Regions from separate parts of the Homo sapiens genome. Here region 2 is linked to region 1. Evidence: fine-mapped expression QTL. A gene starts in region 1. The other region holds a variant in brackets. All regions are shown on one strand. Distances are between the middles of the regions.

Region 1 (15,904 bases):
TGCTCTTCCATCCTTTCACGTCTCAGGGCTTTATTCTAGCTGATTGCCCAGCTTTGAGCTTTTCTGAACATGTTGAACATAAGGGCACCTCTCTGCTCTTTGCATTCCTATCTCTGGCTGCCTGTCATTTATTCATTCAGTAAACATTTACTTGTCCTCATGCAGACCAGCTGCTCTGCATCCAACAGGGGTAGATGAACCACAGGATAAATAAATTTCATGGCCGGGCATGGTGGCTCACACCTGTAATCCCAGCACTTTGGGAGGCTGAGGCTGGCGGATCACCTGAGGTTAGGAGTTCGAGACCAGCCTGCCCAACATGGAAAAACCCCGTCTCTACTAAAAATACAAAAAATTAGCTGAGAGTGGTGATGGTTGCCTGTAATCGCAGCTACTTGGAAGGCTGAGGCAGGAGAATTGCTTGAACCTGGGAGGCGGAGGTTGCAGTGAGCCGAGATCATGCCACTGCACTCCAGCCTGGGCGACAAGAGGGAAACTCCATCTCAAATAAATAAATAAATAAATAAGTAAATAAATAAATTTCATAATACCAGGCAATGGAAAGGGGCTTTCGTGAACATAGAAAGAGGATTAGGAGGTCATGCTGGGGGACCAAGGAGGGAGTTTTGTCCTCAAATGCAAGTGTGCAAGAAATAGCAGAAAGCAGGCATGGTGGCTCATACCTATAACCTCAAAACTTTGGAAAAGCCAAGATGGGAGGATCCCTTAAACCTAGGAGTTTGAGACCAGAGTGGGCAACATGGTTAGATCCTGTATCTACAAAAAATGAACAAAATTTGGCCAGGCATGGTGGCACGCACTTGTAGTCCCAACTACTCAGGAGGCTGAGGTAGGAGGATCACTTAAGCCTGGGAGGTCGAGGCTGCAGTGAACTGAGATCACACCACTGTGCTTCACCCTCGGCAACAGAGCGAGACCCCCGTTTAAAAAAAAAAAAAAAAAAGGAGAAGAAGAAAGAGAAAAAAATAGCAGATATCTGTTTTCTTTTCTTTTCTTTTCCTCTCTTCTTTTCTTTTCTGTTTTTGAGACAGTCTCACTCTGTCACCCAGGCTGGACTGCGGTGGTATGATCTCGACTCACTACAACCTCCACCTCCTGGGATCAAGCAATTCTCGTGCCTCAGCCTCCAGAGTAGCTGGGATTACAGGCACACACCACCACGCCTGGTTAATTTTTGCATTTTTAGTAGAGACGGGGTTCTACCATGCTGGCCAGGCTGGTCTCGAACGTCTGGCCTCAAGGGATCCACCCACCTCAGCCTCCAAAAGTGCTGGGATTACAGGTGTGAGCCACCACGCCTGGCCAAGATATCTGTTTTCTTTTACATCAACTCACCTCTTTCATCCCACCTGATTGGTGGGATGTTTGACCTCAGTCATTTTCACCACTTCCCACGCTCACCCCACTCAAGGTGCACAGGGCTCTCAGGGTCTGACTTGGCACCAAAGCATGTGGCCAGTGAGTCATCTCTTGTCATTGCTCACCAGTCCCTGTGTGTCCCTGGCCAGACTCCTGCTCAGGGAAAATCCTGATTCCAGGCTTAGGACTTCACATACCATTTTGTGAGCCGTGGGCAGAGGAAAGGTTTCTGAGTAAGGAGGATATCATGACCTTTGCAGATGATGAAATAGCAGCAGAGCCGAATATGGTTTGTGGAGGGGAGAGGGGATGTGAGTGCTTGCAGGGGGAAAAGAGAAAGATTCTTGGCTGCTCTTTTGCCTAATTGATCTTAAAACTTGGTTTTGCTACTTTTGATTCATCCTCCTAAATGTGATGGCCCTGAGTCAGGCTCTGGGCTGCTTCTGTTGGGAATGGAGGGTTGAATTGGGCCTGGTCAAAGTTCTCAAAGTCACCCAGCTTCACCCCACCAGCCATGGTGCGCCTGACCTTGTCCATGGGGTGTGTTGTTGTCACTTTGGAGTTGAAAGCTCCAGGCAGCATCTAGTTGTCATCTCTGCTGCTCTCTGGTCTCATGTCCTGTCCACATGGGCTGTTGGCTGCCCTTTGGTCAAACATCTTGTCCCACCCAGCCTGAAGGACTGTTTCTAAATGGGTAGATTCTCAATGGTTGAAGCTTTTCCCCTACTAGGTTCTTCCTCTTACTCAGGAGCCAGCATCAGAACCTCTTACCTAGAGTTAGTTGTGGTTTTTCTTCTCCAGTGGTATCTGCCAAGGCCCCACTGACCTTTGGTTTCCCTAACTCTTTCTTTTCCAGTTGTTTATTAAGTGATGCGCATAAGCCTTTGCAAGCTACAAACCCTCCTTCATCATTGTGGGACTTAGTCCTCATCACAATGAGGGCAGGTATTCATGGCTCCCATTTTACTGATGAGGAAACTGAGGCCGAGAGAGGCTAAGTTGTCTGCTTAAGGTTATGCAGTCCATAAGTAGCACTGCTAGGTCAGGTTTAAGCCTGGGCCCTGTTAGTCTAGACTCTAGATCGTGACCTCTGGGCCTCTGGGTCCCAAGTCTGTCCTGAGAGTTGGATCAAGGAACAACAGGTTGTGAAGGATAAACATCTGCCCACCACTGCCTCTCCTGGGGACTCTGGAGTGGAGAAGCCTGGAGCCCTGGCTTCAGCACACCTTATACTCCCATTGTGAGCCCAAGGGACCTAGCATAAAGTTCAACCACCTGCCCCTAAGGACCGGGTGTGCCGTGAAACACAGCTGACATTTGTGCAGCACTACAGGTGGTGTGCGGAGCACCTCCCATGCTCATGATGTTTCTAATCCTCCCAAACCCTCCCTGAAACCAGAAAGGGGTGAAGAGCTGCCACTATCTACCAACACCGAGCACCTCACGGGAAACAGTGTCTCAGGACTTTATGCCTATTTGAGTCCAGGAGAATAATAATCATCACAGTATTACCAGTAGTACTAGGAATCATCATCATCATCAGTAGTTAACGTGTATTGCCTGCATGCTATGCTCCCAGCACCGTGTTTATTTAATCATTACAATGGCTCTTCGAGGTAGATACCATTATCATCTCCGTTTTATGGATATGGAAACTGAGGCTCAGAAAGGTTACTTGCCCAAGGCCCCACAGCTACTAAATGGCAGAGCTGAGATTCAAACCCAGATTAATCTTCTTTCAAACTTGTGATTGTATCCACTATGCCAAGCTCTGCGGGAAAGTTCTGGCTGGCCAATCGCTGGGGCTGGGATTGGGTGCACTGGGGGTCTCAGCTGCACCAGCTGATGCCCTCACACAGCCTCACAGCTGCACCCACTCCCCTAGGGATGCTCTAAAGCTGGGCTCAAGCAAGCCCTGGCCAGAGGTCCTAAAGATGCTGACTGGGGAGTCTGAGGTGTCTACAAATGTCTTCATGACCTACTTCAAACCCCTACTGACCTGGCTGGTGACAGAACATGCAGCAAGGGGACATCTTAGGCTGGCCAGACTTCAGCTGTTCCTTTGAAGGTTTGATAATCTGACCCTGGTTCCAGCTCTGGGCCAGCCCCAGGCTCCACCTTACCCTGCTCTGTCCTAGTACCTACCCCTACCCAGCCTTAACCCCTGGCTCATTCATGACCTGGCTTGAATCAACAGCACTGCTGCTGTGGGACCCTGTCTGTACCAGGCCTGATGCAGCTTCAGCCAAGACCACCGCTCCCACCACAGCCCCTGGCTCAGTTGCTTCCTTGCACACTGTCCAGCTAGGTTGCCAGGCTGACATCTGAGCAAAGGATCAGCATCTTGCCTCTGGTCCCTTGCATGCAGGGGCATGTAGTCCAATCAGATCTCCTCTGACAGCCACAGGAGACCCCAGGGGTCCCTCTCCAGTTCTACCCACCCTATGAGACTCCTATGTCTTCCACAGAAAAAGACACAGACAAAGTGACATTCCTGAGTCTGAAGCTGGACCCCAACCAGGCTAAATTTGGGTACTGGGTGCTGTTGGCCCTGGGCTTTGTCATGTCTCTGGTGGTGCTGGGGCTGGCCTGCAGGCTGCAGTCCCTGGAAAAACAGTCACTGACTCAAGACACTGAGATATTCAGCCCACTGCCCAATGCCTGCTTCCTGGGCATAGCCATGGAACCCTGCCAGGCTGCTAAAGGACAGTGGATGCTGCTGGGCCTCTGCCTTGTCCTGATGCTGTGCTCAATCAGCCTGGCCATCTGGATTTTCACACAGTAAAGCAGGAAGCCTCCAAGGGTAAGAGCTGAATGGTGAAGTTGGGACTAGACACCAGTGAACTGGTGAGGCTGGGGGGCAGGAGGAGGGAGGCTGAGCCAGAGAGTTGGGGGGCAGAGGAGGGGACAGCCTGCATGCATAGTGCCCAATTATAATTGGGTTCAGCTGTGGCAGATCTGGGTACATGTGATATTGTAATTGTGTGTTTGCAAACTCATGTATGTGAGGCTGTGTGCACAAACAACTGGCTCTATGTGATTCTATGTGTGTCCTGGGTTTCAGGCCAAACTCCTTCCCCTGGTGGCTCAGGACCTAAGGTTTTATTGACCCAGTGGCTGTGTCCCTGCAAACCAGCCCCCACCCCAAGTCATGCCCAGAATTGGTTCTGCACACAGCCTTGTTTTTTTCAGTAACCCGGCTATGGGACTGCAGTGCCCAAGGAATTTCTGCTCTGGTTAGAAAAAGGACTCTGCTTCAGTCCACTTCTGCTCTGGTTAGAAAAAGGACTCTGCTTCAGTCCACAGTACATAAAATGTACTCAGGTAGGACAGGACATTCCTTTACGAATCACCAGTGCCCAGTTTATGAGCACTGTGCTTTTATACCAACCAGCACATCTTTCTGCTAATCCTTGGGCCAGCCCTGTGTTGGACTACATAATCCAGCCCCCAAAAGCTCTTTGTTGACCAGTTGAGATGTAAGTAGCCTCACAAACTGCCCCATGGCTCTCTCTGCCCCAGCCCAAGCCCTTCCAAATGGAGACAGTGGGTTGCTGGGCATTGAGCCAGGCTTGATTAATGATTGACTTCTTTAATATTTAAACAAAGCTCATCTCCAACCACTCTGCTCTGGAGATGGCCTTGTTCAACACACACACACCTGCTGCCTGGCCCGTTGCCCTGGGGAGCGAGCATAGGACAAACAGCACCTTTTCAGGCTCAGTGGGGGATGGGGAGGACAGGAAGGAGGGAACTGTAGGAGAATACTTGGGAAATTAGTGCTCTAGAAACAAGCCTGGGGAAAGAACGGGAAGGCCTCTGCCTCTGCCTTTCCTAGTTCATTATCCTCAGCCTGGGTCTGCCTGCCATGAGGATCCTACATTCAATATTGGGGATTCAGAGCGTCTGGATGGAGGTTGCATGGGCTCCTGGGGAGGCTGGGAGTCAGTGTCTGTCAGAGAATAGGGAAAACTTGAGGGGAAAGGGCATTATAGCCAGTAACTACAGAGAAGGGGTACCCCGGCTGCAACTGAGCTGGTGGGAGGGTGGCCAAAAGAGGAGACCAGGTCTCTCTGAATTAAGAATCTGAGCCCCAAACTCAGGTGTTCAGGGGACAGAGATACTAGGCTGAGATCTCCATGGACCCTGCCCCTGTCCAGGTTTCAAAAGGTCTTTCTGAGATCTGGCTGAGCCCAAGCACTTGCTCCAGCCCCAGGCTCCACAGCACCCTTGTTTGATGACTCTGTCCCTGCTCTTACTTTTCTGTGCCATAATGTCCTTATTTGTCCCTATTACTAGCTATCAGCTCTATAAGAGCTGGATGCACATCAGGAGTGTGCCCCTCTGTAACAACTCTAGTCAGCACAGGCCATGGTGCACAAAAGGGACTTGGAAAATGATGGAATGAGTAAGTGAATGAATGAATGAATGAATGTCCCACTGCCCAAGTCCCTCCTCAGAGCTCAGCACCCCATGTACTGAGCTCATGAGAAATAGCCCCTTCTTTTCCTCCACAGCCAGCCTGTCCAACAGAGGGGCAGCCAGGACATCTCTGCCCTCTTCTCATCCCCCAGCCACAGTGGCCAAAGAGGCCCCCACTAGGCACTGTGGCTCTGCATGACAAACACACATCCAGCCCAGGACTCTAAGCCTCTCACCTGGACTCCAGTAAAAACCTTGCTGAGCCTCCTTGTCTATCCTTCCTCCCCCACCCACCATTGTAAAGTTTATGTCACCAGAATATTTCTTTCATGTCTAATTGCTTAAGAACTTGGTTGTTCATCAATTAAATCTAGATGTTCAAAATGGCATCTGAGGGTCTTTATTAATTACCTCCTTCCTCCAAACTCACCTCTCCCACACCCCCTTGTTCCCCCCACCCCAGCCCCTCTGCACTGACATCACCTTTGGCCTTTGCCTAAGGTGCATGCCCCATTTGAATGCTTGCCCTCCAAGATCAGGCTCAAAATTGCTCACCAAACCCTCTGCAGCACTACAAGCCCACCCAGATGCTCAGTGAACAGTAGTCCCCTTCTCCCCTTCCTCTCCAGGAAGCCTCTTTCAATAAACCTATTCCCACCCCCATTTGCTTTTTCTAGTGTGTTCATTTTCAGTCAGTACTCAGTACTCAGACACTTTTATCAGTGGTCACTTGCTAATAGGTGGTTTTAAATCTGTTCTCCTTCCAAGATGTACCTGTATGCTAAGAGCTCTCAGGCCTCTGAAGAAGGCATCTTATTGCATACTTCTTTCTTTCTTTCTTTTTATTTTCAGATGGAGTCTCGCGTCTCGCTCTGTCTACCAGGCTGGAGTACAGTGGCGCAATCTCGGCTCACTGCAACCTCCGCCTCCCGGGTACAAGCGATTCTCCCACTTCAGCCTCCCAAGTAGCTGGGATTATAGGTTTGCGCCACCACTCAGCTAATTTTTGTTTTTTCAGTAGAGACAGGGCTTCGCCATGTTGGCCAGGCTGGTCTCAAACTCCTGACCTCAGGTAATCTGCCCACCTCTGCCTCCCAAAGTGCTGGGATTACAGGCGTGAGCCACCGCGCCTGGCCCTTATTGCATATTTCTTGCACGTCTTCATGTGTACTCCTACCCCCTCCTCTCAGGACCAGGCCCTGGCTGGACTTGGCGGCAGGAGCTCTGCATGGGACCTAGGTCTCAGCTGAGCTGGAGATCACTTGCTATAAGAGCAGGCCAGAGGCCTAATGGTATCATTGCCAGGGTCGGGCCCAGTGGTCAGACCCGGAAGAAAGCTTTCAGCCAAAGACCACCTGAGGCCCCTAACAACCCCATCTGTAGCCCCCCTCCTGCCTGGGAAACTCCCTGCACTGGGAGGGGAGACTGCCCTTTGGTACTGGGAGGGAATCGGAGAGGTGCTGAGGCCATTGGCCCTTAGGACAGGAACAGAAGCAGCTCCTCAGAGAACACCTGCCCTATTCCAGGGCCAGGACCCCAGCCCCGCCCCGCCCCGCCCCGCCCCGCCCCGTAGGATGCAAGGCCCCGCCCCAGCCCCGTCGGGTCCCAGAGAAACTGCCCCGCCCAGCGGCCCCCTCCCCGCCGCCGGCGCGCGGCTTCTTTCAGCACCAAGGCGTGGACAGCTCCCGGGCCGGCGCAGAGGAGAGGAGGCCAGGAGGGCGCGGGCCAGGGAGGCGAGGGGAGGGCAGGGGAGCGCAGGAAAGGAAAGGAGAGGTGGGGCAGGGGTGGGGAGGGGAGGGCAGACGCAGGCTGGCGGGCGGGGCGCGGAGCCCGGCGGCCCTCCCCGGGGGCGGCGCCCACCGGAGCCGGACGCTGCTGAGCCCGAGGACAGACGGAGACGCCGGGAGCCAGTGGCGCCTGTGGCTCCGGGCAGGGGCCGCGGCCGAAAGATGCCGGTCCGCAGGGGCCACGTCGCTCCCCAAAACACTTACCTGGACACCATCATCCGCAAGTTCGAGGGCCAAAGTGAGTGTGTGTATGTTGGGGCGGGGGGACGATCTGGAGTCCTGGTTCCGTGAAAGGGGGGGCTGGACCCCTTTACTAACTTCTAACCGGGCAAGGTGGTGAGTGCCGGGTGCTGAATGAAAAATCCTTCTTTTGATGTCCCCAACACCTTCTCCTCCAGGGGGACCCGCTTGCCTTAAATGCTGTCCTCTTTTCTGGAACACAAGGAGCAGCGTGCAGGCCTTCCCTCCCTACTGCCAGCTGTTTCCTTGGTGCCCCAAGTTCGAACCTCCCCTTCCAGCCACTGCCTGCCCCCTCATCCGCGTCCTCCAGAGGCTTCTCTGAGTCCTTCTTTTCCTTCCTTTTCATATCCTGGTTCTGGTCTTCCCAGGAGCTTTCCCAGGCCTGACCCCCATCTGGTCACATCCCTGCCTCCCTTCCCCACACTTTTCCTGTTTCCAGGAGGCCTTGGGCCTTCCTTCCACCTCAAGACCCTCACTGCCCTAGTCTTCCCACAATCCCCAGGCCTGACTCCCTCCCTCATTCCGGTCACTGCCCTGCTCCTCTGCCTAAATTCCCCTTACTGCCACCAAGAGTCCTTATGATCTTTCCCTCCCAGCCGCTGGATCCTGGCTCCCATGGACTTTTTGCCTCCCACCTCCCACCCCAGGTCGGAAGTTCCTGATTGCCAATGCTCAGATGGAGAACTGCGCCATCATTTACTGCAACGACGGCTTCTGCGAACTCTTCGGCTACTCCCGAGTGGAGGTGATGCAGCAACCCTGCACCTGCGACTTCCTCACAGGCCCCAACACACCAAGCAGCGCCGTGTCCCGCCTAGCGCAGGCCCTGCTGGGGGCTGAGGAGTGCAAGGTGGACATCCTCTACTACCGCAAGGATGGTGAGGCATACTCAGGCCAGAGGCTTTGCAGGGCAGGCTTGGCCCTCTGTCTTGTCCAGCCAGGGTGGCCTTGGGGAAGGCACTGACCCAGGGTCCAAAGGGCCTGAACAAACCCTGTTTCTTCTAGGGGCCTTGGTTCCTCCACAGGCATTGGATATGATGCCTTCTGAGGTCCTTTGCAGGAGCTAGGGATCAGGCTGGGCCACCCACTGGTTCTGGCCTGGGGCAGGGCCTCCTGCTCTGCCATCCCTCTGCTGTGTCCCTGGTCTCCTGGCTCTCCACTATCTTACTGTCAGCCCCAGCGGTCAGGCAGCTGGGATGGAAATTAACCTTCCCTCCTCTCCGTCTGCTCCAAGGATTAGAGGAGGAGTCACCTCCTGAAGACCTCTGTGGCCAGGCAAGGCATGGGGGCTTTTGGCTGGCAAAGTGGGGTGGGCCTGCCTTATCCAGTCTCAGCTCTTTGGGGAGACAGGGTCTGGAGTTTTCCCTGACCAAGAAGCTCATTCAGATGGAGTTTGGGTTGTTACTGCCAGCTGGAGCATACTGCAAGCAGAACAGAAGCGTAAGTCAGGAGCTGAAGACAGATCTCAGCAGCCCTTGGAAATCCTCCCCCACCCCCCAGGACCACAGGGTCCTCACTGGACCTGGCAGCATGGGTGGGAACGAGGAAAAGAGCCTGAATGTCCTGGGAAATCTCTTGAATCAATGGCCCCCAACCTGGTTCTGCATCAGAATTACCCAGAGCATGTTTTCCAAAACATGCTTTCTCTACAGAGAGGCTGACTCAGAAGGTGTGAGATGAGGCCAAGCGGGTGTATTTGGAAATATCTCCCTGGTGGTTCTGATGTCCTGCTTACTTTAGGAACCACTGGCTTAGGTAAATCCCTTCATTTCATAGATGTGGAAGGGATTTGCCCAAGATCCCACTGCTAGAGTCCAACCTGGGACTGGAACCCAAGTCTCTGGATTCCTCCCTCGGAGATTTCTTTTGAGTAATCCCAAGAGGAGAGAAAGGACCCCAGCTGCCTTTGTGTTTACAGGCAGGATTTCTGGGGAAGGAGGTGCTCAGGGGAGAGAAGTCCCCAGGGAAGGCAGGCATGAGGCCACCTGAGTGGAGATAAAGAATGGATGTCTCTGGATCGGGACCGAGGAGTGCTGAGAGACCAGGTTTCAGGGGCCTGGAGTGTGTGAAACATGAGCATGTGTGTGCTTGCATGTGTGTGCCTCTGTGTGTGAGTGTGTGCTTGCAAGTTCACGCCTGTGTGTGTGTGTTTGCAGGCTTCTCAGAGTTACAGCTTCTCGGGTAGGTCCTGGTTGTTCCTGCTGCTGCCACTTGAGTGAGTGGCAGTGGGAAGTGCAACAGGCAGCGGCAGCCAGGAAGGGACTGGGAAGAATCTGGCTTAGTGTGGCAGTACTCACAGGGTTAATGAACTCAGAATATTTTTAAAAGCTGTGACCTCACCTCCTCACATCATTGCAGAGGAGAGGTGGCAGTCAGGGGAGTGAGAAGGGTCCTGGGGAACAGGATGGGACAGCAGGAAATGGGGGTTACAGCAGGTCCTTTCTTTTCCTCTCCTTGACACTAGAGCTATACCTGATCCCAGATTCCTAGGGATGTCAGGTGATGGCTCTTGAGGTCCCCTCAGCACCCTGAAGGTGTCTGGGCAGAGGGCAGAAGTCAAAGCCTGGCCTTGGCCCCCTGAGATCAGGACTCAGATCAGAATCCTGTGGGAGTCCTCAGGTCTCAGAAGGGAACCTAGGAACCTTGTCTTGGGGGCTGACCCTCGGTGAAAATGGGAAATTGCCCACATACCTGGTGCCCCATAAGTCCCAATCTACTCCCATCCCACCCTCGGCCCTTCCCTATCTTATTGCCCAAGGCTTTGATTTACCTGGACCTTCCTGAAATTGTCCTGAAACCCAGAAAGGGGAGCTTCCTGGCCTGCATTACACTAAGGGAAGGATATTGTGCTCAGATAACTGATGTTCACCTTAAGGTCCACTCTGACCTCATATAATCCTTTTTTTTTTTTTTTTTTTGAGACAGGGTCTTGCTCTGTCACGCAGGCTGGCAAGAACATAGCTCACTGCAGCCTCCCATCCCAGCCTCCTGAGTAGCTGAGACTACAGGCGCGCACCCTCACACCCGACTAATTTTTTAATTTTTTGTAGGGATGGGGGTCTCACTATGTTGCCCAGGCTGGCACATGATCCATTTTTGACCATATTCATGTACACTTACAGTCCTGCTGAGGGGCATCCTAATGGTGATTTCTTTCCTCCTCGGGTCAGTACCTCCCTTCCCCCCAACCCCCAACTCCAGGGAGGTGGGAAGGGGTCCTGAGCAGATCTCTAGCTGATTTATGTATAATCCTCTTTTCCTCTAAAGGGGTAATCCACTGAAAATTCTCGAAGTCAAAGTGGAGGGTTTGTGTTCACATAGCTCCACGTTGTGCAGCTACAGACATTTGGGCTCAAAGAGGCCAGGGCACTTGGCAAAAATACCCCGGGAGACATCTCAGAGACCCCTGGGAAACTGGCTCTTCCTCTATTTGCCTTTGCTAGGAGTGGTGAGAACCTAACAGATAAGGAGGAATGGGGATGTGGCAGGACTAGAACTGGTGAGAGTTTGGCAGGAAGAAAGGAGAGCACTCAGATCCCCCCACTGTCACCCACGCCTGCCCCGCACTGGCACCTGCCCGGGAGCCCACCCCAGCCTGCCTTTCCTGGGTCCTCTTCTCTGAGGATCCCGAACCAGAGAGTCCCCTAATCCCCAAGCCAGATCAGAGGAGTCCTGGGACTTCTCCAGTCCTCAGCTCTTGATGAGGAGGATGGGACAAGGGGCTGCTGTCTGCCCCCACCCTCCTCCCATGTTTACCATATGCACATCTGTGAATGCCAGGAGGACCAAGCTAGGAGGCAGCATGCAGCGGCCACCCTCTCAGTGGCAGCTTTTTGGCTTTTTGTAGCACCAGCCTCTCCCTGGGGACTCACCACAGTGCTGGATGGGGTGTGCATCGGGAGACAGAGGTGAAGACAACAAGGAGGTTGTGAGTGCTGGGAAACTGAACGAAGGAGCACATTCAAGAGGGAGAGAAGAGGAGAGAGAATTGGGGTCTCCCAGGGGAGAGAAGTGGGGTGCCTTTGCTAAGAAAAGTAAGAACCTAGCATATAAGAAGGAATGGGAATTCCCAGGGGGCAGACAAACCTGCTGCCCTTGGTCAGAAAGGTGGGTGCTGGGAGGAGCTCCTGCAAGGAAGAAGCAGGCAGAGACTGTGGCTCCTCCTCCAGGGCCCTGGTGAGGGCACAGGAACACCATCCCTCCTGGGCATAACCTGAGATGGTACAGTTACCCACTTTTGGTCACCTAGATGTGGGCTTTTGTTGTGTGGGGGCTCTGAGCCACGGGTAAGCAAGGACAACCTGGGGCAGGGGGAGAGAGAATGCTCTGGACTCTTCCAAATCCTCCTAGCCTCCTGTCTGCCTACCCAACAGGCCACAGGCATGGGGGCAGGGCATGGGGTACCACGCACTGGCACCCCACCCCAGCCCCAGACCTCACTGCTATAACGGGCTGGTCTTTGGTCCATTCCCAGCCGCAGTTTTCCAATTGCATCAATTTTCCAGTAACATCAATTGCTGGGTGCAGCCACGCCAAGACTGTGTATTGACAGCCCCCAGCAGCTTAGAGAGCCCTGGAGGCCTTCTGCCCCTCTGCCCAGCTCTGCCCTCTCCCTGCCCCCTGCCAGGACAGATCTCTGCAGTGCCAGAGAGATTGACAATATAATCTGGCCTTAGGAGCAGTGTCCGAGGCCACTGGCCAAGGAGGCTCCCTGTCTAGGTCCCAGCGTCCACGTGTCACCATGCCCCAGGCTGACTGGAGTTATGGGCTTGGGCCTGGGAGTCTGGGCCTATAGCACTATGTGCCCAGGAGTGGGTGAAGCAGGCAGGCGCCTCTCCCCAGTGTGGGTGTCTCCCCTGGGCCCAGGCAGCAGATGGTAGATGGCTGCCTGGTGCCTGGGAGTCCAGAAATCCAATACGAGAGATTCCTACTCCCCAGGGAGGAAAGCGAGAGGGAGGATATGGGTGGCTCAGCTGCACCCCAGCTCTGATGGCTGTGAGGAGGGGCTGAGGACGAAACAAGGAGTCTGGTGGAGAGTCATTCCAGTGAGCTCCACAGCAGTGATACTCCCACCAGCGGCCGGCCTGCGTCCCCCACACGTGGGCTTCCATACATTCAGTCAACAAACAACACCTGGGACAGGTGAAACAGAGCCTAACCTGCCCTCAGGGAGTGCAGCTCTGCCTTCTCATCTGCGTGGTCACCTGAGGCCCCTGCCCCCTGAGGATCCTGCCCTTTGGGCCTGACATCTGCCAACAGTTTGAGTTGAGGGACATAGGACTCCCATGGAGAGGGTGCTCGTGGGGTGCCTGGCCTGGGGCTCTTGGGTATGGGGTATTTTGTTTGTTTGTTTGTTTGTTTGAGACAGAGTCTCGCTCTGTCACCCAGGCTGGAGTGCAGTGGCATGATCTTGGTTCACTGCAACCTTGGCCTCCTGGGTTCAAGCGATTCTCCTGCCTCAGCCTCCTGAGTAGCTGGGACTACAGGTGCGCACCACCACGCCTGGCTAATTTTTGTATTTTTAGTACAGACGGGGTTTCACCATGTTGGCCAGGCTGGTCTTGAATTCCTGGCCTCAAGTGATTCGCCTGCCTCAGCCTCCCAAAGTGCTGGGATTACAGGCATGAGCCACCACGCCCGGCCAGGCATGGGGCATTTTAGCTGGTATTGTTCCATCCACCAAAGGGGGCTGCAGCCAGACCCTGGAGGGGCAGAGTCTACGACCTGAGAGGCACAGAGCAGCCAGCCGCTGGGTGTGGGCTGCCCAAGATAATGGGGAAGGTGGCCAGAGGGGCCTGCCCTGCCCCCACAGGGCCATCCTCCTCCCTCTGTGGTGCCCAGGCCACTACTCTGCCTGCTCCCTGGGCCCAGCCCTGCCTTGGGACCCCACACTCCTCCTAGGCCCAGAGCAGCAGCCTGGTTCTGGCCCCAGCACTCTCCTCCCAAACAAGTCCCTTCCCTTTTCCAAGCTATTGTGTCCTGCAAACCCAGGGATCCTCTCTCCATGCTCCCTCCCAGCCCTTGAAAGTCAGTTTCTGAGAACCTCAGGCTCTCTTCTGCAGAATGGGGGTCCATGCCTGCCCCCCAAGGACCTCCTGAGGCCAAATGTTCCAACTGGCCCCATGCCCAGCACTTAGTGTACTTTCAACAACAAATTCCTCCCTGCATCACAGGAGCAGGGCATCTTTGCAGGATGGGAATATGGGAAGAGCGCCCAGGGCCAACCCAGCTCCATGGGGTAGAATGCCCAGCCTCACCTCCCCACTTAATCCACCCCCATCTGCTCAGCTTTAATTACAGCAGAAGCAGACCTCGAGGTTAAGCTCTGAGCTGATGGCCGAGCGTGGACTTGGGCCTGATCTGATGCTACCTTATCTCCTAATAAGCAGCTTAACCGCTCTCCCCACCTCTGCCCTGTGGGTGGAGCACCAGCTGAGCAGCCTCACCCACCCTCTGCCCAGTATCTCTGGTCACTGTCCAAGCCTCTTCACCCGTGGCTGCCCTTCACTTGACCTTCACTCAGCCCCTTCCCTAGCCAGGCCACTGCAGGAGGGGACCCCTTCAGGGCCCACCCCCCATCCTCCCAATGGTGTTCGCAGCCTCCAGCTTCCGCTGCCTGGTAGATGTGGTGCCCGTGAAGAACGAGGACGGGGCTGTCATCATGTTCATTCTCAACTTCGAGGACCTGGCCCAGCTCCTGGCCAAGTGCAGCAGCCGCAGCTTGTCCCAGCGCCTGTTGTCCCAGAGCTTCCTGGGCTCCGGTGAGGCAGAGTGAGGGTGGTGGTGGGAGGGACGCATGAGGGTCCCCTGGCCGTGGCTGCTCTGACTCCTGGCCCTGGTTTCAGAGGGCTCTCATGGCAGGCCAGGCGGACCAGGGCCAGGCACAGGCAGGGGCAAGTACAGGACCATCAGCCAGATCCCACAGTTCACGCTCAACTTCGTGGAGTTCAACTTGGAGAAGCACCGCTCCAGCTCCACCACGGAGATTGAGATCATCGCGCCCCATAAGGTGGTGGAGCGGACACAGAACGTCACTGAGAAGGTCACCCAGGTGCGGGCCTGCAGAGCAGGGTGTGCAGAGCTGTGCCAGGCCTCCAGGGTCCCCTCCCAGGCTCTGGGCCCAGGCCCTTCTGGGGCCTTGGCCGATAAAGAGATCCTGCCTGTCCAGCCTCTAATATCTGGTTTGAGCCCCGGGCCTCCTGTCCTGTTTGAGACCTAAAGACCTGAAGGCCTGCCCTGAGGTCACAGCCCTTGTGCCCAGCTCCTAGAGCCAGAGGAGGCTGGGGTCAGTAGGGCCTGTGAATGATGCCACCTCCTAGGCCTGGAGAAGCCAGGGCAGGGGATGGACATGGAGGCCACCATGGGGGCCTGACCAAGGCTCAGCCCGTCACAGGGAAGGAGAGGCAGAGAGGAGACATGCCAAGGCCATACTGAGAGGAGAGCTGGTGTGGGGGGGGGTCCCAGCCCTGTGCCAGCCCTTTGCCTTTGAGACAAAAGCCACCCTCCCTACTTCCTTCCAATGTGAACACAGGATCCTCCTGCATGCCAGGCAGGGCAGGATGAGGCTGGCACCTCCAGCTATCTTTAATCAGCTTCCTGGGGGCCAGGCCCTGAAGGACCCCGGCAGCTCCTCCTTGGCCACCCCAAGGCAGGCTTCCCTGGGTTCTCTGCTCCAGCTCACCCTGCTGTCCCTTCTCATGAGGCCGGAAGCCCTGACCATTCCAGAGGGAAATGCGAGGAGCCCTGCCCGAGGCTCCAGTGACCACAGTCCTGGCACTGACTCCCTGTGTGACCTTGGCCAGGGGAACTATCAGCCCCCTTTCTAGGCCTCAGGGCTTTCATCTGCAGGAGAGAGATGGACTAAATGGTCTCTGGGGACCCATTTGACATTGAGTAGTTCTGGCCCCAGGAGGCAGACAAAGCTGTAAGTCATAGCCAGGGGCCCAGGCCAAGGTTGAGCAATGCAGAGCATGGAGGGGCCTGCTCCCAGCTTTCCTGGGGCTGTCCCTGTGTTGGGGCTGGAGGCAGCTCTTTTCCCCCTGCCTGTTTTCACCTAAAGCACAGTTGCTGCTGGA
Region 2 (13,667 bases), 23 kb before region 1:
AGAATGGGGTGCCCAGTATAGCCCCAAGTGCAGGGACCCTCCCTCAAGTCAAAAATGCCACCCCCAGCCTGGTTCTCCCCAAACTCATCTTCCAACATATATTCCCACTCGACAGGCTGAAGTACCAGGGCCTCTGCCCCCCAGTGCCCAGGACTCAAGGTGACTTTGACCCAGGGGCCAAGTTCCACATTCCTTCTAGCGTGCCTTACATCAGGTAACGGGAAAGGCAGGAGGGCACATTGTGAGGGGCAGTACCCACAGCTTTGTGTTTCAACTGCGGCCACTGCCCGGTCCACAAGCTCTGTCAGTCAGGGCAGACCCGGGGGAGCCGGCCGCACGGTGCAGGTGCCTGGGCCCACTCACACTGCCAAGGCTGATGGGTTTTTTCTTGAACATTCTTTTGATGAGAGTCTGTACCATCCAAACAGTTGAACACAGAAACTCAACCTAATAATTGGCTAATGGTTACCAGACCTTGGTTAAGTAGTTAACATTAACCACGACTCATGGCTGGATCATGAGCTCTGCACTGTTTTGTTTTGCTTTTAAAACAAGACTGTGATTCTTTTACTATTATTGAACATTGTCTGCGATACAATTTGAATTGTACCTGGAAGCCCTTCTAGACACTAAAATGTAGGATTGGAGATCGGTTAAGGTGGGAGGCAGGGTTGCTGGGGCAAGTTACAGTCACAGGCTGGGGTCAGACAGAACTGGGTTCAAACTCCGTCTCCATTACTTTGTTTCCTTGAGAAAATTCCTCAATTTCTGTGAGCTTCCATTTCCTGACCTGTGAACCCCATTTCACAGGATGCACGATGGCTAACTTCTTAGCATTCTGTCTCATACACAGCCTCCTCAGGGAGGGGTGGCCAGGACCCCACTATTCATCACTCTCTAGTGGAATGTAGCTGCACACTAGGTCTGCAGGTCACATGGCCACAGATGAGTGTGCCCAATGCAGCCCCTCTCCTTCTGTGTGCCCCGGGAGAGCACTTGCTGAGGGCTAGCAAGGCTGTTTGTGATCCGGGAGGCTCCCTGGGAGGCTGGGGGCTAGAGAGACCTCAGGCTGGAGTTCCAGGTGCCCCCGGGCTACAGGTAGCCCAGGCCACCCCCAGAGGGCTGTGGCTGCCTCTGGCCCTGGCCTCCCGTGGTTCCTGGAAGCCCAGCAAGGGCAGGGCCCATGCCCACCTTGCCTCCTGGCACCTGGGATGATGCCAGCACATCATCAAGTGCTAATAACTGATTGTGGGATGGATGAAGTCTGTCCCCAGAGTCCAGGAAGAGGGCATCCCTGGAGCACCTCAGATAGGCCTGACCTAGACGGTGCTCCAGAGATGACACTTAGGACAGGGCTCCCGCCTGCCTGCTGGAGTGGTCCCTGGGGTTCCCAGCCGGCGCTGGCTCTCACCCGGGAGCCAGCTGGTGTGATGGCTAGCTTCCCAGCTTAATGCAGACAATTCTCCAAACAGGGGTGGGCAAAGGAGACTTGGCTGCTCTAGAAAAACATTCCGGATTCTGGCCAGCAGCCTTCACAAAGCACTTTTAGGAAAGACCAGGGAACTAGGTGGTACATGCTTGCACCCAGCATTCAAAGTGAGAGGCCTGTGCCACTGGCTCAGGACATTTAAAACCTCTTCAGACTTTAAGCTGGGGAGAATCCTCCAGCCTTGACTGGCAGATTTCTACCAGGGAATTCGTGATGCTTTGGATAAGATCATGTAGGACTGGCTTCCCTGCCCAGACCACCCTAGTAGATCCACACGGCCCATTTGGCCACACCTTGCCTCTACTTGCATATACCCCAGGGATGGAGACCTCACTGCCTCCAAAGCCACCTGCCAGATCTCTGAAGGCTCTGCCCTGACCCCATGGAGCAGGCCCTCCTGAGTTGTGGAGGCAGCTCTGTGGGTGGGAGGCATCTACACAGGCACGGCTAGGAAGAGGCTCAGACAATGCTAAGAGCTGGGGTGGGGGAGCTCACCCTGATAGCTGTGGGCAGAGTTGGGGGGCCTTGGCTCTGCTGTGCGCATGTGACTTAGCACACATCACATGTGATGTGCAGAAGGGCCTGGGGCCCAGTGGCACAAGGCCCTCAACCAACTCCGCCCCGGGCCACGGCCTCGCTCTGCTCCAGGTACTTTGTCAGCTTCATCATCCAGTTCCAGTTCCACGAGGCACTGTGCCAGGCAGCTGGCCACACGGGCCCCCTGCACAAGTGTGACATCTACCAGTCCAAGGAGGCCGGGCAGCGCCTGGCGTGAGTGTCCTCCAGCCCTCCTTTGTTTCCATGCTCTGGCCTGCGCCCCTGGGCCTTGAGGGGTCTGTCCACTGGAGCTTTTGTGGGAACACTTGCCATTTTGAGCCGGGAACTCCCACCTGCAGCGTGGGCCAGGCCTGATTGCCATCTCCTTAGGCACCTGGAGCCCTGGGGCCCTGGGACAAGTTTCAGCTGGGAGTGGGTATGGAGAGTGGATGTCAGGTGGGGGCAAGAGGGGCCATGTCCTTCTGACTCTGCCTCCCTGTCTCATGCCTCCCCAGGACCGCCATGAAGCTGGGCTTCAGTAGGCCGTGGCCGGAAGCCATGCAGCTGATCACGGGCCAGCCCAACATGAGCGCCTCGGCCATGTTGAGCTACTTCAAGCCGCTGCTGGACTGGCTCCGCACGGAGAACGAGCTGCATGGGGAGAAGCTGGGCTGGCCGCAGTACAACTGGACGCCGAACTCCGGTACCGCCACCCACCCCACCTCCAGCCTTGGGTCTTAACCCCCTCCCCAGGCTGGGCAGCCATGCGGCTGACCTCGGAGCCTGGCCCTGCCCCGCACCCTTGCCCTGCCCTGCCCTGCCCTGCCCATGCTGTCTCCTTGCTTCCCGCTCAGCTCGCTCAGAAGGGCCCCTCCCAGACAGCGGCCGCGTCAGCTTCCTGGGCCTGGACCTGGATGCGCAGCAGGCCCGCGTGGGCCAGTGGCTGCTGCTCTTCCTGGGCATCGCCCTGCTGGTAGCCACCCTGGGCCTCAGCCAGCGGCTCTTCAGCATCCGCCACCGCAGCCTCCACCGGCACTCCCACGGGCCCCAGTTCGGCTCCGAGGTGGAGCTGAGACACTCCTGAGGTGACCCGGCTGGGTCGGCCCTGCCCAAGGGCCTCCCACCAGAGACTGGGATGGGAACACTGGTGGGCAGCTGAGGACACACCCCACACCCCAGCCCACCCTGCTCCTCCTGCCCTGTCCCTGTCCCCCTCCCCTCCCAGTCCTCCAGACCACCAGCCGCCCCAGCCCCTTCTCCCAGCACACGGCTGCCTGACACTGAGCCCCACCTCTCCAAGTCTCTCTGTGAATACAATTAAAGGTCCTGCCCTCCCCATCTGAGTCTGTGTCCCTCACAGGGAAGCCAGGGACAGGGACAGGCTGCTTTCCTGCCTCCTGGCAGTCAAGTGGGTCCCGTTACTAGGTTTGTTCCTCCATCCTCCTTCAGGAGCCGGGGAGGATCCCCAGAGCTCTGCCCCAGCACCTCCTGGCGCTGGCGCCTGTCTTCCCTCCAGCCCAGGCAGCCCGCCACTGTCCTGCCACCGCAGGCAGCCCCTGTCTGGCCCAAGCACTGACCCACGCGGACTCTGGGAAGCAGACATCCTGGGCTGCTGGCCTCACATTTCCACTGGCAGTGGAGCCTTTCCCTGCTCCACAAATGGCCAGGTCCCCCCAGGGGAAGGCTTCCGGCTGTTATCGGCTGCCTCAGGGGGCGAGTACCTTGGAGGGCCTGCTTCAAGGAGGGTGCCCCCTGGAGGGCACACACCAGCCTAGTGCTTACCTTGGCTCCTGCCTGTACCAGCTCCATGACTCTGCTCGGGTGAACAGCCTTGGCTCTCAGACAGCCATTCTAACACTGCCAGTGCAGAGGGGCCTCAGACGCTGGAGTGTAGCAGTGGCTGCACCTGCACAGGGATTAGCTGCCAGCAGCCACCCTGCTGGCGTCCCAGCACACACCTCCTCACTCCCTGCATTGGAGGGAGTGTCATTTTAAGGGACATTTTTATGACTTTTATGTGTATGTTTATGTAGAAATTTGGAAAATACAGAAAACTGTAAAGAAAATAAAAGCCCTTTATATCAACGTCAAGAGATAAGCCCTGTTGACGTTTTGGTGTACAACTTGCCGGACTTCTTCTCAGCACATGTGTATTTTAAATGGGATCACACCATATTTACAGTCATACATCCTTTTATCACTTCATACAACTAGATCTGTTTTTCTGATATTTAAATGCCAGACTTCGAACTTGGCCAATAGAAGTTGGTCCATTTGCTGGGGCCAGGGGCTCCCCAGCCACCCGGGCCCCTCTGTCAAACCCTCAGCCCTGAGTCTCTTCTGGGCTTTGCTGATGTCTTCACCCTAGCTAGGTCCATCTCCCAATATCTGTCCCCCTTAGTCCACAGCTTTTGCCCCCCAATCCAGGTGCCGTGCGTGTCTCTGTGTGTCCGTGTCTGTGTGTGTGTTGTACACAGGCTTGGCTGTTACAGGCCCATTCTGTAAGGCAGGATGTGGGGCTGAGGTATTTTAGGATTGAAAGAGGGTGGAAGTTTATGATTACATAGGACAATGGAATTTATAAACATGTCCTCTAAATGGTTCC[G/A]AGTCATCTACCAATGAAGACTTCTTGAATTATCCCCCCTTTTCCCAGCCTGTTTTGAAAGCTCTTTGTTTACCAGACAAAGGTCATCATCATATGACCCCCTTTGCCTTTTTTTTTTTTTTAAGATGGAGTCTCGCTCTTGTTGCCCAGGCTAGAGTGCAGTGGTGTGATCTCGGCTCACTGTAACCTCCACCTCCTGGCTTTCAAGCGATTCTCCTGCCTCAGCCTTCCGAGTAGCTGGGATTACAGGCGCCCACCACCATGCCTGGCTAAATTTTTGTATTTTTAGTAGAGATGGGGTTTAATCATGTTGGCCAGGCTGGTCTCGAATTCCTGACCTCAGGTGATCCACCCACCTCGGCCTCCCAAAGTGCTGGAATTACAGGCATGAGCCACCATGCCTGGCCCCCGTTTCCTATTTTTATGAACCACAGCGGTTCATGCTGCCTGTCAGAGCTTCTGGGCCGCGTGAGGTCACCAGCTTTCAACACGCAAAGGACTGCACTGCAGCTGGGGGAAGAGAAACTCCACACTGCATTGGCCTGGCCAGCCTTACCCTCTGGGCTTTTGAAATAGTATCTTTTTTCTGTTTGTTTTCAAACAGAGTCTCGCTCTGTCGCCCAGGCTGGAGTGCTGGAGTGCAGTGGCCTGATCTCGGCTCACTGCAACCTCCACCTCCCAAGTTCAAGCGATTCTCCTGCCTCAGCCTCCCGAGTAGTTGGGCTACTACTTCAGGCGCACGCCGCCATGCCCAGCTAATTTCTTTTGTATTTTAGTAGAGATGGGGTTTCACCATGTTGCCCAGGCTGGTCTTGAACTCCTGAGCTCAGGCAATCCGCCCGCCTCAGCCTCTCAAAGTGCTAGGATTACAGGCATGAGCCACCGCGCCCGGCCCAATAGTATCATTCTTTAGATGCCTGCCTCTGCCTCCTTGGGTGAGTGGGGAGAGGCAGGGGATACCTGGAAGGTAGCAGAGGAAGAGGAGGCGGTAACAGCAGGAAGAGGGGCCACCCCAGTGTTTTCTACTGGTGGCCCTGAAGGCTGAGCCCATCCCCGTGCCATGCCTGCCAATGCCGCTCTTGGGAGACCAGCTCTCACCTACGCTAGCCACAGGTGGTGGCTGCCAGACAGTTTCTCTGATCCCCACAGCCCTCCCCACCCTCTACCTTCCTCTGTCTGCCTAACCCCCTTCCCACCCACCCTGGCTTTTAACATAAGTGAAAAAGTGGCTAACCCCACCTCTGCACTTATCACCTGTGTGACCTTGGGCAGTTTGTTTTTGCAGTCTGCATTTTCTTTTCTTTTCTTTTTTTTTTTTTTTTTTTGAGATGGAGTCTCGCTCTGTCACCCAGGCTGGAGTGCAGTGGCGTGATCTCGGCTCACCGCAAGCTTGGCCTCCTGGGTTCACGCCATTCTCCTGCCTCAGCCTCCCGAGTAGCTGGGACTACAGGCGCCAGCCACCACGCCCGGTTAATTTTTTGTATTTTTAGTAGAGACAGGGTTTCACCGTGTTAGCCAGGATGGTCTCAATCTCCTGACCTCGTGATTTGCCTGCCTCGGCCTCCCAGAGTGCTGGGATTACAGGCGTGAGCCACCGCGCCCAGCCTGCATTTTCTTTCTTACGGTTCTTATCAACCCTCTCAGCGTTGCCATGAAGATGAAATGAGATGATGTACAAAGTCCTAGTAGAGTGTCTTCTCTTTATAATGAATGCATCGTCTCCTGAGAAAGCTAGTTTCATAACAACCCCAGATCAGCCAAGTCCAGATCAGCCCTCTCACTTGAGACAGGAAGAGGACTCGGGGCAACTGGGTGCCGGAGCTGGACTGAAAACTCCCATCTCCCAGCTGCCTTCCAGGAACTTCCCCACCACACGTCCTTGCACAGCCAGTCAACTGTCTTCTTACTGGGAGCACACAGAGCTCGTCCACTGGGGGCCCACAGCTTGCCTCAGTTCCGGGAGTACTCAGCCATCTCCCTGTGTCGCCTCTCCCTCATCATCCCTCCCCATGTCACATCTCCCTCAGCCTCTCCGTGTTACCTCTCCCTCATCCTCCCTCCCCATGTTGCCTCTCCCTCATCCTCTCTCTCATCCTCCCTGCCCGTGTCGCCTCTTCCTCATCCTCTCCCTCATCCTCTCCCTCTTCCTCTCTCCCCATCTCTCCTCTCCCTCATCCTCCCTCCCCATGTCACTTCTCCCTCATCGTCTCCCTCATCCTCCCTCCCTGTGTCGCTTCCGCCTCATCTCCCCTCCCCATGTCACCTCTGCCTTATCCTCTCTCTCATCCTCTCTCCCCATCTCTCCTCTCTCTCATCCTCCCTCCCCATGTCGCCTCTTCCTCATCCTCTCTCCCTATGTCACCTCTCCCTCATCCTCTCCCTCATCCTCTCTCCCTATGTCATCTCTCCCTCATCCTCTCTCCCTGTGTCACCTCTCCCTCATCCTCTCCCTCATCCTCTCTCCCTATGTCACCTCTCCCTCATCCTCTCTCCCTATGTCACCTCTCCCTCATCCTCTCCCTCATCCTCTCTCCCTATGTCATCTCTCCCTCATCCTCTCTCCCTGTGTCACCTCTCCCTCATCCTCTCCCTCATCCTCTCTCCCTATGTCACCTCTCCCTCATCCTCTCTCCCAATGTCATCTCTCCCTCATGCTCCCTCCCCGTGTTGCCTCTTCTTCATCCTCTCCCTCATCCTCTCCCTCATCCTCCCTCCCTGTGTCGCTTCTGCCTCATCCTCTCTCCCCATGTCTCCTCTCCCTCATCATCTCCCCTCACCTTCGAGGATCCCCATAAGACCCTGCCTGGGGATTTCTATCTTGCCCTCTGTCTCCTAACTCTTGCTCATAGTGCTCACCCCATTTCCTGTCCTGTGTGCCTGGCGATTCCCCACCTGTGTCCTCCAGGCCCGGTGCTTCTGATTTTTAGCCTACTGTTTAATCTGGCTGTCGAGAGTTTTGTCGTTCCAATTTAATCCCTATATTTTTCATTTTAGCATCCCTGCTTCTTTCAAACCTCCTGGGTTTTCATAAACGCCTGTTTTTGCCTCACAGATTCTGTTCTCTGAATCACTTTAAAGACCTGGTTTTTTTAATTGTGGCAAAATATACATAATGTAAACTCACCATCTTAACCATTTTTAAGTGTACAATTCAGTGGCACTAAGTACATTCACATTGTTAATTGTTGTGCAGCCATCACCACTGTCCATCTCCAGAACAGTTTCATTTTTCTGTGTGTGACAAGGTGCCCCCAAAAAGTGTGCTTACTCTGTTGTCCAGGCTCACTGCAGCTTCAACCTTCTGGGCTCAAGCAATCCTCCCACCTCAAGCTCCACAGTAGCTGGGAGCACAGGCATGAACCACCACACTCAGATAATTTTTTTTAAGTTTTTAGTAGAGGCCAAAGCACGGTGGCTCACGCCTGTAATCCCAGTACTTGGGAGGCCAAGGCGATCGGATCACTTGAGGTCAGGAGTTTGAGACCAGCCTGGCCAACAATGGCAAAACCTCATCTCTGCTAAAAATATAAAAATTAGCCAGGTGTGGTGGGGGTCGCCTGTAATCCCAGCTATTTGGGAGGCTGAGGCAGGAGAAGCACTTGCACCCGGGAGGCAGAGGTTGCAGTGAGCCAGGATCATCCCATTGTACTCCAGCCTAGGCGACAGAGCAAGACTCTGTCTCAAAAAAGAAAAAAAAAAATTTTTTTTTGGTAGAGATGGGATCTCCTTATGTTGTCCAGGCTGGTCTCGAACTTCTGGGCTAAAGTGATCCACCTGCCTCGGCCTCCCAAAGTGCTGGGATTACAGGTGTGAGCCACAGTACCCAGCCTCTGTACCCATTAAACAGTAAAATCATACAGTATTTGTTTTGTCTCTGGCTTGTCTCAGCATAATGTTTTCAGTGTTTATCCATGTTATAGGATGTGTCAGAATTTCCTTCCCTCTTAAGGCTGAGTAATATTACATTACATGTATATACCACATTTTGTTTATCCATTCATTCATCCATGAACATATGGGTTTCCACCTTTTGGTTATGGTGAATAATGTTACTATGAACTGTAAAAAAAAGTAATTCAAAATCAAAGCTGTTGAAACTTTAAATTATTCTGAGCCTTGAAGGAAAGTAATTTTGGGACCTGAGTCACTTACGGGCAGCTATGAACTTTGTTTCCTTGATTATAGATTACTCCTTTTCCCCTTAGCTACATCATTTTGTAAAATGTTATAAAAGACTGAAGGGTGCCATAGAAGTTCCCTTTCCTCTTTTCTGTTGAACTTCATTATAGATGATTAACTTCCCTCTTCCTTCTCCTACGCAAAGACCTCACGACTGTCACATTGTCCAAGATGTGTTAAATGTACTCTTTTAAACTGAAAAAAAGAAAATAAGCTATTACTAATCAAATTGCTGTACCTCATAAACCAAACTTATATGGGAAATGTTGTGATTCTACCTAATTTCTTAGTTTTCTGACTATAAAGTAAGACCTTAAACTTTTCAGCTTCAGAGCACTGACCCCATTTCTTTGGAGCCTGTGAGAATGGCCGTCCTCAGCTTCACGCTCGAATAAACCTGTTAAACTGGATTCTGATCTTTTTTATTATTTCAGGTTGACAGAACACTGTGTGCAAATATCTGTTTGAGTCCCAGCTTTCAGTTCTTTTGTGTATATACCCAGGAGGATTGCCCGATCATATGGTAATTCTATGCTTCATTTTTTTTGAGGACCCACCAGACTGTTTTCCGCAGCGGCTCTGCCATTTTCCCCCAGCAATGCACAAGGTTTCCAATTTCTCCACACGTTGACCGACTCTTGTTTTCTGTTTTTTTGATAACAGCCATCCTAATGGGTGTGAAGTGGTGGCTTTGATTTGCCTTTCCCTAATAATTAGTGATATTGAGCATATTTTCCTGTGCTGATGAGCAGCTCATGTATTTTCTTTAGAGAGATGTCTACCCGAGTCCTTTGCCCATCTTTGTTTTTGTTGTCGTTGTTTGTTTGTGTTTGTTTGTTTGTTTTGAGGTGGAGTCTCACTCTGTCACCCAGGCTGGAGTGCGGCGAGGCAATCTCGGCTCACTGCAACTTCTGCCTCCTGGGTTCAAGCAATTCTCCTGTCTCAGCCTCCTGAGTAGCTGGGACTGCAGGCGCCCACCACCATGCCCGACTAATTTTTGTATTTTTTTAGTAGAGACGGGGTTTCACCGTATTGGTCAGGCTGGTCTTGAACTCCTGACCTCAGGTGATCCACCCACCTCAGCCTCCCAAAGTGCTGGGATTATAGGTGTGAGCCACCACGCCTGGCCCTTTGCCCATCTCTGAATGTTTGAGTTTGAGGAGTTCTTTATGCGTTCTGGGTATTAATTCCTTAGCAGATCTGAGAGTAACAGATATTTTCTCCCATTCCATGGATTGCCTTTTTGCTCTGTTACAGTGTTTTTTGATATGCAAAAGTTTAAAATTTTGATGAGGTTCAATTTGCTTATTTTTTCTTTTGTTGCCTGTGCTTTTGATGTCATATCCAAGCAATCATTGCCAAATCCAATGTCATGAAACTTCCCTCTGTGTTCTAAGAATTTTGTAGACTTTGCTCTTTTGTTCCCTCTTTCTTCTCCTACACAAAGATCTCATGACTGTCACATTGTCCAAGATAAGGTGTTAAATGTACTATTTTATTATTTTTATTTTATTTATTTATTTTTTGAGACAGAGTTTCATTCTGTCACCCAGGCTGGAGTGTAGTGGTGTGATCTTGGCTCACTGCAACCTCTGCCTCCCAGGTTGAAGCGATTCTCCAGCCTCAGCCTCCCGAGTAGCTGGGATTAGAGGCATGTGCCACCATGCCTGGCTAATTTTTGTATTTTTAGTAGAGACAGGATTTCACCATGTTGGTCAGGCTGGTCTTGAACTCCTGACCTCAAGTGATCCACCTGCCTCAGCCTCCCAAAGTGCTGGGATTACAGACATGAGCCATTGTGCCCAGCCTTAAATGTACTCTTTTAAATTGAAAAAAGAAAATAAGCTGTGATCCATTTTTGAGTTAATTTTTATACATGGCATAAAGACCTGCATTTTAAGTCCCTTTTGGATTGCTCTGCTACTTGTCCTTCCTCCATTGCAGTCTGCTTCATTCATTGTGTCTGCAGTTTAGCACAAGCTCTGGAACCAACCATATGAATTTGAGTCCCACTTCCACCATCCGCTGGCTGTGTGACTATGAGCAAATTCCTCAACCGTTCTGTACCTCTCTTTCCTCATCTGTAAAATGGGAGCGTTGATCACAGTACTTACCTCATGGGTTTCTTGTGAGGATTCATATGTTGAAAGCCCCCAGATGGTCCCTGGCACCTGGAACCAACCCACAGTGAGGGTTGGTAATTATTATTGTCCCTCCTAAAACTGGATTTTCTCTTATACTTGGTAAACTGTACCTATCAGCCATCTTCAGTTGGGTTGGAATGGCCTGCACAATCCCATGCATGCACCTGACGCTTGCAGGGGCTCCCAGCTTGGCAGAGACGCCATTTCCATCGGGATCAGCTATCCCCCCACACCAATGCTGCAGCTCTCTGGATGGATGCACCCTGACCTCCCCTGTGTTAGAGGAGAGGTGGGCGTGTTGAATCATGGAGGCAGACTTCCCCTTTGCCGTTCTCGTGATAGTGACTGAGTTCTCAGGATCTGGTTGTTTAAAAGTGTGTAGCGCCTCCCCCTTCTCTCTCTCTCCTGCCACCATGTGAAGATGTGCCTGCTTCCCTTTCGCCTTCCACCATGATTGTAAGTTTCCTGAGGCTTCCCCAGCCGTGCTTCCTGTACAGCCTGTGGAACTGTAGAGCCAACTAAACCTCTTTTCTTTATAAATTACCCAGTCTCAGGTAGTTCTCTATAGCAATGTGAGAATGGACTGTCTACATGCTTGAAGCAGGAAGGGAGACTTTCCTGTGAGCTCAGTCGATCAGCTTAACCAGAAGTGTCACTATTTTTTTCTTTCTTTCCTCATGTTATAAATATATTTTACCCATAATGGATCATATTGGGGGGTTATTTGGTCAGTTTCTCTAGTCGTGGTATCAGCCCATGTGTAGAGGTAGGGCCTTTTTGAAGATGTGAGCCATTGTGGGCTGAGAGTGATGGAAGGCAACCCAGGGTACAGGGATTCTGAGTGTGGAGGGAAGTGAGTCTGAGGAGAAATCCAAGGTGAGACAGATGGAGCTGGCCTCCACAGACCTCAGTGCAAGAGTACTGGGGGTGACCACAGGCCTACAGAGAGCTGGTGTCTTGCCAGCTGGTTTTCAGATCAGGCTCAGGTACTCATGGGCATGCACCCTGGATGGAGGGTGCCCGCCTCACCTCTCCACACCCCACCCAGTCCCTACCTTGTGTGCCCTCTCCTAATTGCAAACTCATAACATCAGGGTCTCCCTGGAGAAACAGGTATGATGGGGAGGGCCCTGCACAGCCCTGGGGTTGATTGCACAGCCCATAAGAGAGAAAAAGCCCAAACACGTGAACATAAGAGGTCAAGTTAGAAGAACCTAGAGAGATAACCTGGCTTCCAGAGACCCAGATATATCACATCCATCCATCCATCCATCCATCCATCCATCCATCCATCATCCCATCCACCTGCTCAGAAGTGGTCCCAGCCTATGGAGGGAGGGCCTCATCAATCCCTGGCCATAACCCAAGGGTGGCTCAAGCCCCAGGGAAAAGTGGCCGAGGAGAGCAGAACAAGTTCTGGCCTAAAAGTCAAGACCCCTGGTTCCTCTTTTTGGCTCGCCATTAGCTAACTACATGAACCAGATCATTTGGCTTGACTTTCTGGACCTCAGTCTCCCCACCTGTAAAATGGGGACAGTTGGACCAGGAGGTGGATGGGGATTTCCAGTTCTAACATTCTGTAGCTGAGCCTCTGGCCTCTGACGTCACAATATGGAGCTGGCCTCACCCAGCTCTGCTGCTCTGTTGGTCATGGGAGCAAGGTGGACTTGCCCTGGACCTTCCCTACTTGTGCTCCTCTGTTATGGGCAGCTCTTGCCTTGGCTCAGGATCAAGGGTGAACACAGTTTAGGTGTGGCTGGGACCCCAAGAAGCATGGGACCAGACAAAGGGACTGGGTGCGGACAGGACCTTCTCAGCACATGATGCCCATATCCTTCCCTGCAGATGACTTCTACAATGAGACCGAGACCAAGATCTTCCTGCAGTTTTATGACCAAACAGGTGAAGTTGTGTTGAACAAGTTCATGGAGGCCACTTGGAACTATGTCACCAATATCACCAGGAAAAATCAGGAGGAGATGATGTGATACCACCTCCACCCCAGCCTCTCCTCTCTTTGCTCTTTTTAGGGATTTGGGACCATGGGGCACCACATCTCCTGCCCCCATCCCAAGCAAGAGGAACAAGGGAAGCCCCAGTGTACATGTCAAAGAGGGCTGCAAGCTCTGGGCCTCCTGGAAGCCCTAAACTTCCTCCAGGCAAGAATCTCTTGCTTCTTGTCCTTTGTAAATCTCACCTCCTTGCTTTTAGAGATCCAGGTTTCTGCCCTCTCCCTCTCAGCAAATCTTGCTCCCTAAGCCAATGGGATTAGGGAGTCAGTTAGGGTGCCATGGCCCTGGAGGTCAAGTGGGACCCTTCCCCTGTCCCCCAACCTTGGTGGCTCTCTTTGCAGCTGCACAAGGACATGGAGAGGTCCCAGTTCATGATTTACTTTGGCACCCAGGCCCACCTGTTTAAAGTCACCCAGTTCAAGGACCCGGATGTGAATGGCATGCTGAGTAAGCTGCAGAACATAGACAAGGCGGCTCTGTCCAAGGACGAGCTGCGGGAGGTGATGGATGGAACCCCCAGGCCTTTAGGCACATGCTCCCTGGTCCTAGGGGTCTGGTAGGGGAGACAGAGTGCCTGGGGCAGGAGGGAGGCAGGGAGTGGAGGAAGGGCAGGATCAGAACTTCCTCTGGAGAAGGAGAGGAGTAGAGGTGGGGGTACCGATCTCTCCTGGCTGGTGGGGCGAGCACTGGGGGGGGACCTG

Alleles and levels. Alleles are on the strand shown, and positions count from the first base shown. SD is a standard deviation of normalised expression in the study named.
For the expression in lung of the gene that starts at base 7,696 in region 1, A is the high allele of the variant in region 2 and G is the other (moderate effect, 0.75 SD a copy in GTEx).

What was found. PIP is the estimated chance that this variant, and not a neighbour inherited with it, causes the effect.
Region 2: its variant is fine-mapped to the expression of KCNH6 in lung (GTEx, PIP above 0.99).

Annotation. Positions count from the first base shown.
Region 1 is chr17:63,515,663-63,531,566 of GRCh38, forward strand. KCNH6 (potassium voltage-gated channel subfamily H member 6) reads left to right here and starts at 7,696. Exons shown (of 13, transcript NM_001278919.2): 1 at 7,696-7,827; 2 at 8,477-8,707; 3 at 14,429-14,590; 4 at 14,675-14,880. The coding sequence starts at 7,752. It also overlaps the pseudogene ACE3P. RefSeq lists enhancers at 1,014-2,213, 1,210-1,319.
Region 2 is chr17:63,494,257-63,507,923 of GRCh38, forward strand. It overlaps ACE (angiotensin I converting enzyme), which reads left to right. Exons shown (of 25, transcript NM_000789.4): 22 at 116-214; 23 at 2,138-2,260; 24 at 2,542-2,729; 25 at 2,881-4,117. The coding sequence ends at 3,110. It also overlaps the pseudogene ACE3P. Among named protein-coding and RNA genes, the nearest start is that of KCNH6, 22 kb to the right of the region's middle. The variant G/A (reference allele first, on the strand shown) is at 4,632.